Linked DNA regions of Homo sapiens. The protein of the gene in region 1 purifies or fractionates together with the protein of each later gene. This does not show direct contact. Each region holds a gene or a part of one and is shown in the gene's direction. Other genes may lie near its edges.

The links. Proteins that work in one complex are often made in the same cells at the same time.
Region 2: the proteins of ITLN1 (region 1) and DNAJC12 purify together in Homo sapiens (affinity purification with mass spectrometry; 3 studies listed by BioGRID and IntAct, with this or other methods). This does not show direct contact.

The regions. Positions count from the first base shown.
Region 1 is NC_000001.11:160,881,599-160,890,870, reverse strand, and holds the start of ITLN1 (intelectin-1 precursor), read left to right. Parts: upstream 1-5,690; 5' UTR 5,691-5,810; intron 5,811-5,987; 5' UTR 5,988-5,993; coding exon 5,994-6,051; intron 6,052-7,344; coding exon 7,345-7,443; intron 7,444-8,666; coding exon 8,667-8,914; intron 8,915-9,272. UniProt on the Homo sapiens protein: Lectin that specifically recognizes microbial carbohydrate chains in a calcium-dependent manner.
Region 2 is NC_000010.11:67,796,169-67,800,188, reverse strand, and holds the end of DNAJC12 (dnaJ homolog subfamily C member 12), read left to right. Parts: intron 1-2,978; coding exon 2,979-3,073; 3' UTR 3,074-3,520; downstream 3,521-4,020. UniProt on the Homo sapiens protein: Probable co-chaperone that participates in the proper folding of biopterin-dependent aromatic amino acid hydroxylases, which include phenylalanine-4-hydroxylase (PAH), tyrosine 3-monooxygenase (TH) and peripheral and neuronal tryptophan hydroxylases (TPH1 and TPH2).

The DNA.
Region 1 (9,272 bases):
ATGATGTTGGCTGTGGGTTTGTCATATATGGCTGTTATTATTTTGAGGTATGTTCCTTCAATGCCTAGTTTGTTGAGGGCTTTTAACATGAAAGCATGTTGGGATTTTGTTTTTTAAATTTGGTTCTAGCAGTCTCCTAGAATACCAAACACTTTCATTTAATCATTTAATCTCTAGCAGACCCTGGTTATAGGTCCACTTCAGGTCTATTCTTGGAGTTGTAAACATTTTATCATTCTGTCTTTCAATAAATATCTTCTGAATCCTCACATAAGCAATGCAGTGTGTAAGTATACCTTAGTATGTAGCAGAAGGGCTTATGTAAAGCAAGGGGGCTTTTGCACAGGCCAAATAGGAAAGTAAAAAATCCATGAAGAATAAAATATGGGTGCTATACACACCTGTTGATTGAGTTTGGGGCTTCCCAGCTGAGGTGAGCTGCTGATGGCAGTGGTAGTAAAGAGAAATCCAGGTTTTTGAGATAATCTTTCTTAATGATAATCACACCTTTCACATATTCATGTACATTCTCATTTTGCTCTTGTCATTTCACTCCTCACAACAGTCCTGTGAGGTAGAGCTCGTTACTCACATTTTTATTTTTATTTTTTGAGATGGAATCTTGCTGCATTGTCCAGGCTGGATCACAGTGGCGAGATCTCAGCTCACTCTAACCTCCACTTCCTGGGTTCAAGCAATTCTCCTGCCTCAGCCTCCCAAGTAGCTGGAATTACAGTTGCGCACCACCACAGCCACCTACTTTTTATATTATTTGGTAGAGATGGGGTTTCACCATGTTGGCCAGGCTGGTCTCGAACTCCTGACCTCAAGTGACTTGCCTGCCTTCGCCTCCCAAAGTGCTGGGATTACAGACATGAGCCACCGCACCTGGCCTTGTTATTCACATTTTACTGCATGAAAACTGAAGTCCAGAGGGATGAAGTGGTTTGCCCAATGTCACATGTCTAGTACATGATCTTGGATTGGAGCTCAAGCCTATGGGCTTGCAGGGAGTTCTCATTTCAGAGTACCAACTCTATGCTAATGTCAGAGCTAGCATTTTTTCACCAAATCTAAGGTATAAAATGCACCATTGTTTTATGTACCACTCAAGATGAAATACAAACTATGATATGCCATTGAATGAAGGATGCACTCAATATCAGAGATATGAAAGTGTTAGACATAGTTTTATAAGAAGCATAAATTTTATTTGGACTGGGCACAGTGGTTCACACCTATAATCCCAGCACTTTGGGAGAATGAGGTGGGAGAATCACTTGAGCCCAGGAGTTAGAGACCAGCCTGGGGAACATAGTGAGACCCCATCTCTAAAAAAAATTAGAAAATTATCTGGGTGTGGTGGCATGTGCCTGTAGTCTCAGCTACTCAGGAGGCAGAGGTGGGAGTATCGCTTGAGCCCAGGAGGTCAAGGCTGCAATTAGCCATGATTGTACCACTGCACCCCAGCCTGGGTGACAGAGCAAGACCATGTCTCAAAAAAAAAAAAAAAAAAAAAATCGAATATTTGTCTTGGACCTAGATACAGTCTATTTCCTTTTGTTAATATATCTGAAAATATATAGTTCAATATTTTCTCTCCACAAATAAAGTATTAGCTTAACAAATATGGTGCCTCATAAACCTTTTCTTAAGAACTGCTGTGAGAAACATGTAAACAGTGAAAAGGTCATGTTATCGTGTTAAGATAATAATGGGCATAAGGGATGTGGCAACACCGGGCAGGAAGTGATCCATCCCATTGTTGAGGGAGAAGAGGCATGAGTGACATTTATGCTCAGGAAATTGAGGAGTGACACTGGGACAGAAATGGCAAAGCAGGTATTGAAGCATCAGAGGAAGTTTGTCCTGGATCAGTGATTCCAAAATGTAGTCTGGGGGCCAGTGCTACTCTAGAATGACCCCCCACCAAAAGAGTGTTTTCATTGGTTTGTAGCAAAATGAGAAAAGTAAGAAAAAATATTATTTTTCATAAAACTAAATTTATTCAAGCTGAAAATTTATATTTATTTTGATACTTTGTCTTTCCTGTGCTGTCATTGAGATATATATATATCTTACAAATATATATATATCTCACAAATATATATATATTTGTGAAATCAGTTGTATTTCTATATATAAGCATCAAACAATTAGAAAATAAAATTTCAAAAATATGGCATTTATAATAGCATCAAAAATGTCAAACACTGCCAGCATGGTGGCTCACGCCTGTAATCCCAACACTTTGGAAGGCCAAGGGTGTGAGGATTGCTTGAGCCCAGGAGTTTGAGACCAGCTTGGGCAACATAGTGAGATCCCATCTCTACAAAAAATAAAACAATTAGTTGGCCGTGGTGATATTTACCTGTGTTCTCAGCTACTTAGGAGGCTGAGGTGGGAGAATCACTTGCCTGGGTGACAGAGTGAGACCCTGTCTAAAAAAAGAAAAAAAAAGTCAAATACTAAGGAACAAATAGCAAATCATACACAAAATCCCTATAAGGAAGCTATAAGATACGAAAAAGCAATAAAAACACAAATAAATGAAGAAACAGGCCACACTCAATATTTTAAAGACGTAAATTATTTCTAAATGATCTATAGATTCAATGTAATTCCAATAAAATCCTAAAGGGTGTGTGCATGTGTGTGTGTGTGTGTGTGTGTGTGTGTGTGTGTGTATGTGTAGAGGTAAACGACCAAGAATAACCAAAAAAGAAGAGCAAAGTGAGAAGCCTTGCTCTACTGGATATCAAGACATTTTATCAATCTAAAATATTTGGAACAATGTGGTATGGGCACAAGGAAGTGCTGATTTCCATCACAGTCAGGCCAGTAATTACCTTTGGGAAGGGAGAGGTCTGTTATCTGGAAGCAGCATATGGGAAGCTTCTGGGTGCTGCTAAAGTTTCATTTCTTAGCTAGGATGATAATTACACAGGTATTTGCCTTTCTTGTAATTTATTAAACTGCACATTTAATGTTTTATATCTTTCTCTGTATGTGTAATTTTACAACAAACCTTCTCCAAGTCACTGGAGATGTAGATGTGGGGCTGGAGTGAGTTGGTGGTGAGGGGCTTTCTTCCACACTCTTCTATCTTCATGCACATCTATACTGTCACATACGTACCTATACTCTCAGCACTTTGGGAGGCTGAGGCAGGATTGTTTGTGCCTAGGAGTTCGAGACCAGCCTGGCCAACATGGTGAGAACTCGTTTCTACCAAAAATACAAAAGTTAGCAGGGTGTGGTGGTGTGTGCCTGTATTCCCAGGTGCTTGGGAGGCTGAGGTGGGAGGATCACCTGAGCCTGGAAGGTTGAGGCTGCAGTAAGCTGAGATTGTGTCACTGCACTCCATCCAGCCTGGGCAACAGAGTGAGACCCTGTCTCAACATAAATAAATAAATAAAATAAAATAAAGAGAAGCTGCTGTCAAGCAAGCCTGGATCTTGCCCTCTCTCTCGATTTTCTATTTCATGAGGTAATAGATTTACTTTTTAGAAAAGCCACTTTGAGATGGGGTTTCTATTAGTTACAGCTACAAGGAACCAGACTGAACTAAATAAATGTCCAGGGCAGTGGGGTTTGGAGGAAGTTGTGTGGGGAACAGATTCAAGAGGAAGTAGGGGTAGAATCAATGGGACGCAATCACTGATTGGATGATGATGGTTAGAAGGGGTAATGTCCTTAAAATGGATGTACTGTTTTCCCAGTCTATTAGATGGCATCATGTACCATTAAGGATGAGATGCATAATGATATTAAAGATGTCAAAATACAAAAAAAGTGTCTTAGAATCAACTAAAGAAAGTAGTATAAGTGTATATTTTCTTTTTTTATTTTTGCAAATATGTTACTGTTTTATTAAGCCATAAAGTTTTCAGGTGGTTAGTTACACACAGTAATGAACAACTGAGGGGATGTTTAATTTTTTTCTCTAGATCTTGGGCCCTTGGTGTTAACTTTATATACATGTATTTACTATTGTGAACTGTAAACTTAGAGACCTCTATTTTTTTTTTTTTTTTTTGAGATGGAATTTCACTCTTGTTGCCCAGGCTGGAGTGCAATGGTGCGATCTCAGCTCACTGCAACCTCTGCCTCCCGGGTTCAAGCAATTCTCCTGCCTCAGCCTCCCGAGTAGCTTGGATTACAGGCGCCTGACACCGTGCCCAGCTAATTTTATATTTTTAGTAGAGACACGGTTTCACCGTGTTGATCAGGCTGGTCTTGAACTCCTGACCTCAAGTGATTGGCCACCCTCGTCCCCTCAAAGTGCTGGGATTACAGGTGTAAGCCGCAGCGCCTGGCTGAGACCTCTATTTCTAAGAGGTTGTTGTTTGTAAATATGAAAGCTGGGTATGTTCATTTTGTTACCTATACTGATGAGTTAATTTAGTTTCTAATACATTTAATTTTATTTAATTAATTATTTTCCAGATACACAGAGCAAATAGCTTCTAATAGATTTTAAATTTACAAAAGTATAACTTTTTTTTGCAGTTTTTCTTCTTGGGTGCTATTTTATTTTCTTCTATCAATATGTGAGTATTTTTTGCAAATCAGTACTTTGAACCAACAAATAGGAAATATTAGCTTAACAAAAAAGATATTCACAATCTTTGTAAGAAAAGGTTGCAGTATTATTAATGCTATAATGACATTATGTATTAAATGTATGATATCACTGGGGAAGAACTGAGTAATTCTATTACAGCTGCAGGGTAGCATTTGAGAACTTCATGACATAGGAGCAGGAATAAGACAGGAGGTTCGAAGCAGCAGAGAGGTTTCGTATTGATTCAGTTTCAAATGAATCCTGTAGTAAATTTTCCCTCGTTTGTGGCAAAATGACAAAATTAAAGACAAAGTAGTGAGTCTTTGTGTGAAACTAAATTATTCAAACTAAAGATTTATATATTTTTTAAAACTTTTCTATTCGTATTTTTTTGTGTGTTTTGTATCTCTTTCCCCTCCATTCCTTTTTACCAATTTATTCAGAAATGATCACTTTCCCATTTTGTTAAAATTTCCTTTTTCTATTTCTATGAATTGATAATTATGGCCAATGATTAATTTCATTTATTTATTTATTTTGAGATACCTAAGCTGAAGTACAGTGGCACGGTCATATTTCACTGAATCCTCTATCTCTGGGACTTAAGTTACCCTTTTGCCTTGCCTCAGCCCCACCTGAAACTATAGGCAAGTACCACCATGCCATGCTAATTTTTTTACTTTTATTTTTAGTAGAGAAGAGGTTGCCCTATGTTGCCCAGGCTGGTCTCAAACTCCTGAGTTCAAGTGATCCTTCTGCCTTGGCCTCCCAAAGTATTGGGATTTGAGCCAATGTGCCAAGCCAACAGATGCTTAATTTAGAGAAAGTTTTTATTTTGCAAGAAAGAAAGGCACAAAAACCCAAAACCAACACCAACTCTTGTTAATCTCTTCGTCTACTTCCTACTTGACACAGGTCCATGAAACCCCCAGATCCAGGAACAACGCTAGCAGGTGATTCTTAGGATTGGTTTTTTCTTTAGAACCTGTTAATTCCACTGTATAAATAACCTCCCCGAGATAACCAGAAGCCTCCCCTGCACTGGGCATTGTGCCAGGGGAGGGTGAGGCTGGAAACCTTGGTTGGCCCCACTGGGCTTCCTCCATAAAGCTTTCTGCACCTCATTCCACATCAGGAGCGTTTTTGGAGAAAGCTGCACTCTGTTGAGCTCCAGGGCGCAGTGGAGGGAGGGAGTGAAGGAGCTCTCTGTACCCAAGGAAAGTGCAGCTGAGACTCAGACAAGGTCTGTGAGTTGGGGGAATCCTGTTTTCAGCTTAGGTCTGCTTTTGGTCTCAGAGATGTGTGAAGTTTAAACAAAAGGCAAGGGGTTTTGGAGTCTTTGTAAGACTGGACAGGGGTGGGGCAGGGATGTAGAGAAAAATGATGGCCAAGATGGTGACCTTCATCTTGCTTTCTTTAGATTACAATGAACCAACTCAGCTTCCTGCTGTTTCTCATAGCGACCACCAGAGGATGGAGTACAGGTGAGTCACGCTGCTAGGGACAGCAGTTCCTTCAGCTGGATGACTTCCGGGATCCTGGTCTCTCCCAGGACACAGAGCATGTCCTTGAGATGCACAGCGGCTGGCTTGCATGTAGACTGAGTGCCGATTTCTGGTCTCTGGCGGAATCTGGCCTGTGGCAGTGAAGGTATTGCTTGAGGCATGTCCTGGGTCCAGGCTCTGTGCTTTTGTGTGGCCCTGAGGGGGCTGTGGCAAGAACTGTGTCACCTTCCAGCCACTGCCCACTCCTGTGGCCTTGGCTGTGGGATTTCCATGGGAACTACATGGTCTGCTTTGTGCCTGGAGAATGTTCTCTCCACAGTTTTCCTCTCTACAACAAGAATAACAATGACATTTTAAAATTTATATTTTTCTTCACGTCTAAAAATTTTTTTTTTAAAGAAAAGGCTGTTTCGAAATATCTTCTTACTTCATCTTTGCAAAAGCACTGTTTATTAACTGTGTTTTAGGTATGAGGAAACTGAGGTCAGTCACCTCTGACCTCACAGCTTTCCCCTAGACTGTTCGAATAGTTTGCAGACTTTTTGGAGTAGAGATTAGTCTCACCACTCCCTACTTCACACCCCATGTTTCAGCCATATTAAGCAGCTTGTAGTTCTACAGCTGGACTACGCTGTATTTTTTTTTTTTTCTCTAGGCCTTTGGATATGCTGTTTTCCCTGCCTTGGATTGGCTTCCTACTGATAAATCATGTTTATTCTCTCAGAATAAGCTAAGATGTCACCTGGACTGGAAGGTCTTCTGTGACTAAGACATGAGACAACCCGTCTTGCCTTCTTCTCCCAGGCAACTGCCCCGCTTACTGTCTGGCGTTTCCATTCTCCACTGTTACCTCAGAGTCTTTCTTTTGTTCTCTTGAGTTTGCCTTTCTTCTACCATTTATTCTTGTCAATACAATTTTCTGTTGACTTGTTAGCAATTCCCTCTAGAGGCAAGCTCTTGCTGGGGAACTTTAATGTCTTTGATTACTCAGTGCTTAGGGCAGGACCCAGCACAAGGACAGGTCTTGTGGCGGGAGGCAGACTTTAAGCCTGTGCTGGCTGTCAGGTCGGATGGGCTGAGTGGATATGATGCCGATGGGCTGAGTGGATGTGACACTGATGGGCTGAGTGGATATGACACTGGCTGTCTCAGGCCTTACCACCCGGGCAGCGAGGTTCTGCTACAGTGGTGGAATGAGCGTGGGACTAGTGATAGGAGAGGGTAGGTTTTGTGTCAAACCGGGAATGAGAATAAACCCTGTGTATTCCCTAGATGAGGCTAATACTTACTTCAAGGAATGGACCTGTTCTTCGTCTCCATCTCTGCCCAGAAGCTGCAAGGAAATCAAAGACGAATGTCCTAGTGCATTTGGTGAGTGATGAAACATTCAAACAGAGCTCAGTCAGGGTATCAGGATTGTGTCTTCTGGGAGTCTTTTTGTCTTTTAGTTAAAAAATTATGGTAAAGTATATGTATATTATAATTTACATAAGATTTGCCATTTTAAGCAACATTAAGTGTGCAATTCAGTGGCATTAATTACCTTCAAGGTTGTGCAACCATCACAGCTATCCATATGCAGAACTTTTTCAGTGCCCCAAACAGAAACTCTGTACTTAATAACATGGAGGGGCCGGGTGCGGTGGCTCAGGCCTGTAATCCCAGCACTTTAGGAGGCTGAGAGGGGTGGATCAGTTGAGGCCAGGAGTTTGAAACCAGCTTGGCTAACATGGTGGGGCCCTGTCTCTACTAAAATACAAAAATCAATTGGGTGTGGAGTACATGTTTGTAATTCCAGCTACTTGGGAGGCTGAGGTGGGAGGATCGCTTGAACTCAGGAGGCAGAGGTTGCAGTGGGCCAAGATAGTGCCACTTCACTCCAGCCTGGGCAACAGAGTGAGACTCCATCTCAAAAACAAAAACAAAAACAAAACAAAACAAAAAATAACATGGAGTTATTAAGCAATAACTCTCTTCCCTCAGTCTCTGGTAGCTGCATTTTACTTTCTATCTCCATGAATTTGCCTAGTGTAGTTACCTCATGTAATTGGAGTCATATGGTATTTGTCCTTTGGTGTCTGGCTTATTTCACTTAGCACAGTGTTTTGAGGGTTTGTCCATGCTGTAGCATGGATATTTCATTCCCTTTTATCCACTGCAGATACATATATGCACACACACCATGTTTTGTTTATTCATTCACCTGTTGGTGAATATTTGAATTGTTTCTTCTATTTGGCTCTTGTGACTAATGCTGCAATGAACACTGGTGTAAAAGCATCAGCTTGAGGCCCTGTTTTCAATTCTTTTGGGGATAGACCTGCAGTGGAATTGCTGGGTCATACAATAATTCCATGTTTAACTTTATGAAAAATGTCACTGGGATTTTATACAATTCTATGTTCTGCCTCAGTTACAGGAGCATGATCTTCTGAACTCAGGGAGGCCCCAGTACCCCTGGGAGCACTTAGTGATGTGAGTCAGGACAGGAGCCTTTAGGCCATGTCTCTGGTTCCTAGGGCCTTTCTTGTCATGGGGCTGAAATGAACCCTCAGCTCTCAGACAGGGAGGCTCTGGGCTGGTTCTCTCTACAGATGGCCTGTATTTTCTCCGCACTGAGAATGGTGTTATCTACCAGACCTTCTGTGACATGACCTCTGGGGGTGGCGGCTGGACCCTGGTGGCCAGCGTGCACGAGAATGACATGCGTGGGAAGTGCACGGTGGGCGATCGCTGGTCCAGTCAGCAGGGCAGCAAAGCAGTCTACCCAGAGGGGGACGGCAACTGGGCCAACTACAACACCTTTGGATCTGCAGAGGCGGCCACGAGCGATGACTACAAGGTTGGTGCCACTTCTTACCCACTCGGGTGAGGGTGAGGAGTGGAGTGTGGCTGGCCACAAGCCTGCAGGAGGGATGGCTGGAAGGTAGGGGTGTGGGATGGGCTGGAGAAGAAGAGAGAAATACTTATATCTTTTTTTTTTTTTTTTTTTTTCTTGAGACGGAGTCTTACTCTGTTGCCCAGGTTGGAGTGCAGTGGTGTGATCTCGGCTCATAGCAACCACGGCCTCCTGGGTTCAAGTGATCCTCTGCCTCAAAAGTAGCTGGGACTACAAGCGCCCACTACCATACTCAGCGAATTTTTGTACTTTTAGTAGAGATGGGGTTTCACCATGTTGGCCAGGCTCGTCTCGAACTCCT
Region 2 (4,020 bases), on another chromosome or scaffold:
GTGCAGTGGTGTGATCACGACTCACTGCAGCCTCGACCTCCTAGGCTCAGATGATCCTCCCACCTCCGCCCCCAAATGGCTGGGACTGCAGGTGTGCACCACCACATCCGGCTAATTTTTTATAGAGATGGGGTTTCGCCATGTTGCCCAGGCTGGTCTCAAACTCCTGAGGTCAAGTGATCCATTGGCCTCAGCCTCCCAAAGTGCTGGGATTATAGGTGTGGGCCACTGTGCCCAACCTGTTTCAAGTTCTTGTCTGCATGTCTATTTCTACGGGAACCCTAACTAGAAACTACATTTTTTTTTTTTTGACAGTCTCGCTCTGTCGCCCAGGCTGGAGTGCAGTGGCGTGATCCTGGCTCACTGCAACCTCCGCCTCCTGGGTTCAAGTGATTCTCCTGCCTCAGCCTCCTGAGTAGCTGGGATTACAGGCGTGTGCTACCACGCCCAGCGAATTTTTGTATTTTTAGTAGAGACGGGGTTTCACCATGTTGGTCAGGCTGGTCTCGAATTCCCAACCTTGTGATCTGCCCGCCTCGGCCTCCCAACGTGCTGGGATCACAGGCGTGAGCCACCGCACCTGGCCAGAAACTACATCTTTTTAAACAAAAATGACACTTACTTACTATATAAAATGTGAGAAAATATAATCAAGCAAAAGGAAGAACATATAACTCATAATTTTATCATTTAGAGAAATATGTATTATCGATATTTTGGTATATTTTCATTTGTGTTAGTATATCTAAAAGGATCATACTGTACATATTTTGTGAGTAAGTTTTAATTATAGGAACAATTATAGCAATCAGAAACAATTTCCTTTTTGCTTTTTCCCCAAATGAAAATTCTTCAGATTTGTTTTCTCCAATAATTCTTTAAAAAGTGTCAGTGTAATCTGTTTTTCTGAGATAACCATTGTTAACTATTCTGTATATGCTTTTTCTGACTACATATTTATATACTATATTAAAATATCAATGGAAGTGTATTTTATATATTATTCTGTAACCTGCTTTTTCATTAGCAATATTATTAACATAAAAAGACGAAAAGCATAGATGTTTATTGCAGAAAAATAAGAAAGTACAGATAAACAAAAAAGAGTATTAAAAATGAAAATTGGCCGGGCACGGTGGCTGACGCCTGTAATCCCAGCACTTTGGGAGGCTGAGGCAGGCAGATCACCTGAGGTCAGGAATTTGAGACCAGCCTGACCAACATTGAGAAACCCCGATTCTACTAAAAATACAAAAATTAGCCGGGTGTGGTGGCTCATGCCTGTAATCCCAGCACTCGGGAGGCTGAGGCAGGAGAATCGCTTGAACCCGGGAGGCGGAGGTTGTGGTGAGCTGAGATCGCGCCATTGCACTCCAGCCTGGGCAACAAGAGCGAAACTCCGTTTCAGAAAAGGAAAAAAAAAAAAAAAAGGAAAATCACATCTATTGTAACAATCCAGGGATAAATACTATTAATTTTGGTGTACCTTTTCTTATCTGTTTGTTTTTTGAGAGAGTGTCACTCTATTACCCAGGCTTGAGTGCAGTGGCACCCTCTCGGCTCACTGCAACCTCCCCCTCTGGGGCTCAAGTAATCCTCTTGTCTTAGTCTCCTGAGTAGCTGGGACCACGGGCACATACCACCACGCCCGCCTAATTTTTTGTATTTTTTTGTAGAGACGGGATTTTGCCATGTTGCCTATGCTGGTCTCGAACTCCTGAGCTCAAGAGAGGCACCTGCCTCGGCCTCCCAAAGTGCTAGGATTACAAGCGTGAGCCACCATGCTGGGCCTTCTTTTTTTAGACTTAAAAAAATTTCACATAAATATTCATGTAAATAATGAGTTTAGGAATGAGATCATACTATATAAACAGTTTTGTTAACTGTCACTTAGCAATATGCTGTGAGCATTTTTCTATAATGGTAAATATTAAGATATTGTTAATGACGATATCAAAACCTTTTAACCAGCTTTCATTTGCTAAAGTTTAGAATGTTTCTTGGTTTGCAAAAAAAATTTATAAATGGTATCATTATAAACATCCTTAGAGTTAAATCGTTGGGTGCATCCATTATTATTTCCTTAGGATACATTTCAAGGAGTAAAATTATTGGGTCAAAGGTTTATACTTTTTTTTTTTTTTTTTCTGAGACAGAATCTCGCTCTGTCGCCCAGGCCTGAGTGCAGTGGCGCTATCTCGGCTCACTGCAACCTCCGCATGCCGGGTTCACGCCATTCTCCTGCCTCAGCCTCCCGAGTAGCTGGGAGTACAGGCGCCCGCCACCACGCCCGGCTAATTTTTTGTATTTTTAGTAGAGACGGGGTTTCACCGTGTTAGCCAGGATGGTCTTGATCTCCTGACCTCGTGATCCGCCCGCCTTGGCCTCCCAAAGTGCTGGGATTACAGGCGTGAGCCACTGCGCCTGGCAAAGGTTTATACATTTTAACGAGTTTGATAAATATTGCCAAATTGCCTGCCAGAGGGGTTTTGCTAATTCATACTTCTAGTAGGGAAGGAAAATTACCTTCTTTTCCTCTGGTTTTCAACAATGTTGTTTATTATAACTAAAAAAAAATCTTATTACCATGGAATTCAATTATAGTACTTGTATTTCAAGCGATCCTTTTGCCATTGACTTTTAACTTTTGAAAGGTTTTTGAAAACTGTGTAATTTGTTTCAAATTTCTTTGCATGTGAATTGTCAAATTCCCCACCACCAGAGGCATCTATGTATTTCCTCTTATTAAGTATTTAAGCATGTGAGGTCTTATCATCCATATAAATTGTAATTCGTGTTCATAAGAATTCCAGTCTGTTTAAGTTAATCCATTTCTCTAAGATGTTAATAATTCATACCAAAGTCTTACCCTTACATTGTACCTGCTGCAGTGAAATATTATCCCCAAGCTGTTTTACTATAACAAGATCGACTTTTCCTACTTCTGATTTTAAATATTTACTTTCTTTCCTTTAAAGGTTTTGCAGATGTGAATGGTTGGCACCTTCGTTTCCGCTGGTCCAAGGATGCTCCCTCAGAACTCCTGAGGAAGTTCAGAAACTATGAAATATGAAATATCTCTGCTTCAAAAAATGAGGAAGAGCAAGACTGTCCCCTATGCTGCCAACATGCAGTCTTTGTTTATGTCTTAAAAATGTCATGTTTATGTCATGTCTGTGAATTGCTGAGTACTAATTGATTCCTCCATCCTTGAATCAGTTCTCATAATGCTTTTTAAATAAGAAAAATTCAGAAGATGAATTTCTTCCAATATTTGAATAAATTAAAGCTCTTAGATACAGAGTAGATTGTATTATATGCTTTTTCCTATTAATACTACTTATAGAAATCCATTAAAAAGCAATCTCTGTACAGTGTATTTAAATATTTCATTGACATACTGTGATCTCTATTAGTGATGGATGTACAAAAAATGTTTTCTTACCCTTGACTTACAATGAAATGTGAAATTACTTGTCTGAACCCCGTGGGGAGAAATAAATAATTTTCCCAAAGTTCATAAATGAATTTATAATTCAATTTTTTTTAGGGTCTTGCTCTGTCACCCAGGCTATGCAGTGGCATAATCATAGCTCAATACAACCTCAAACTCCTGTGCTCAAATTATCCTCTTACCTCAGCCTCCCTAGTAGCTGGGACTAGAGGCACACGCCACCATGTCTGGCCAATTTTTTATTTTCTATAGAGGTGAGGTCTTGCTATGTTGCCCAAGCTAGTCTTGTACTCCTGGCCTCAAGTGATCCTCCCATCTTGGCCTCCCAAAGTGCTCAGAATACAGGCATGAGACACCATGCCCAGCCTTGATGGTATTTTAAAAATAATTTGAATAGATATTTCTAACCTAATTTTAAAAGTTATGATTTATTTGAGGAAAAAAATATATGTATATATATATTTTTTAGATGGAGTCTCACTCTGTCACCCAGGCTGGAATGCAGTAGCATGATCTCAGCTCACTGCAACCTCTGTCCCTTGGGTTCAAGTGATTCTCCTGCCTCA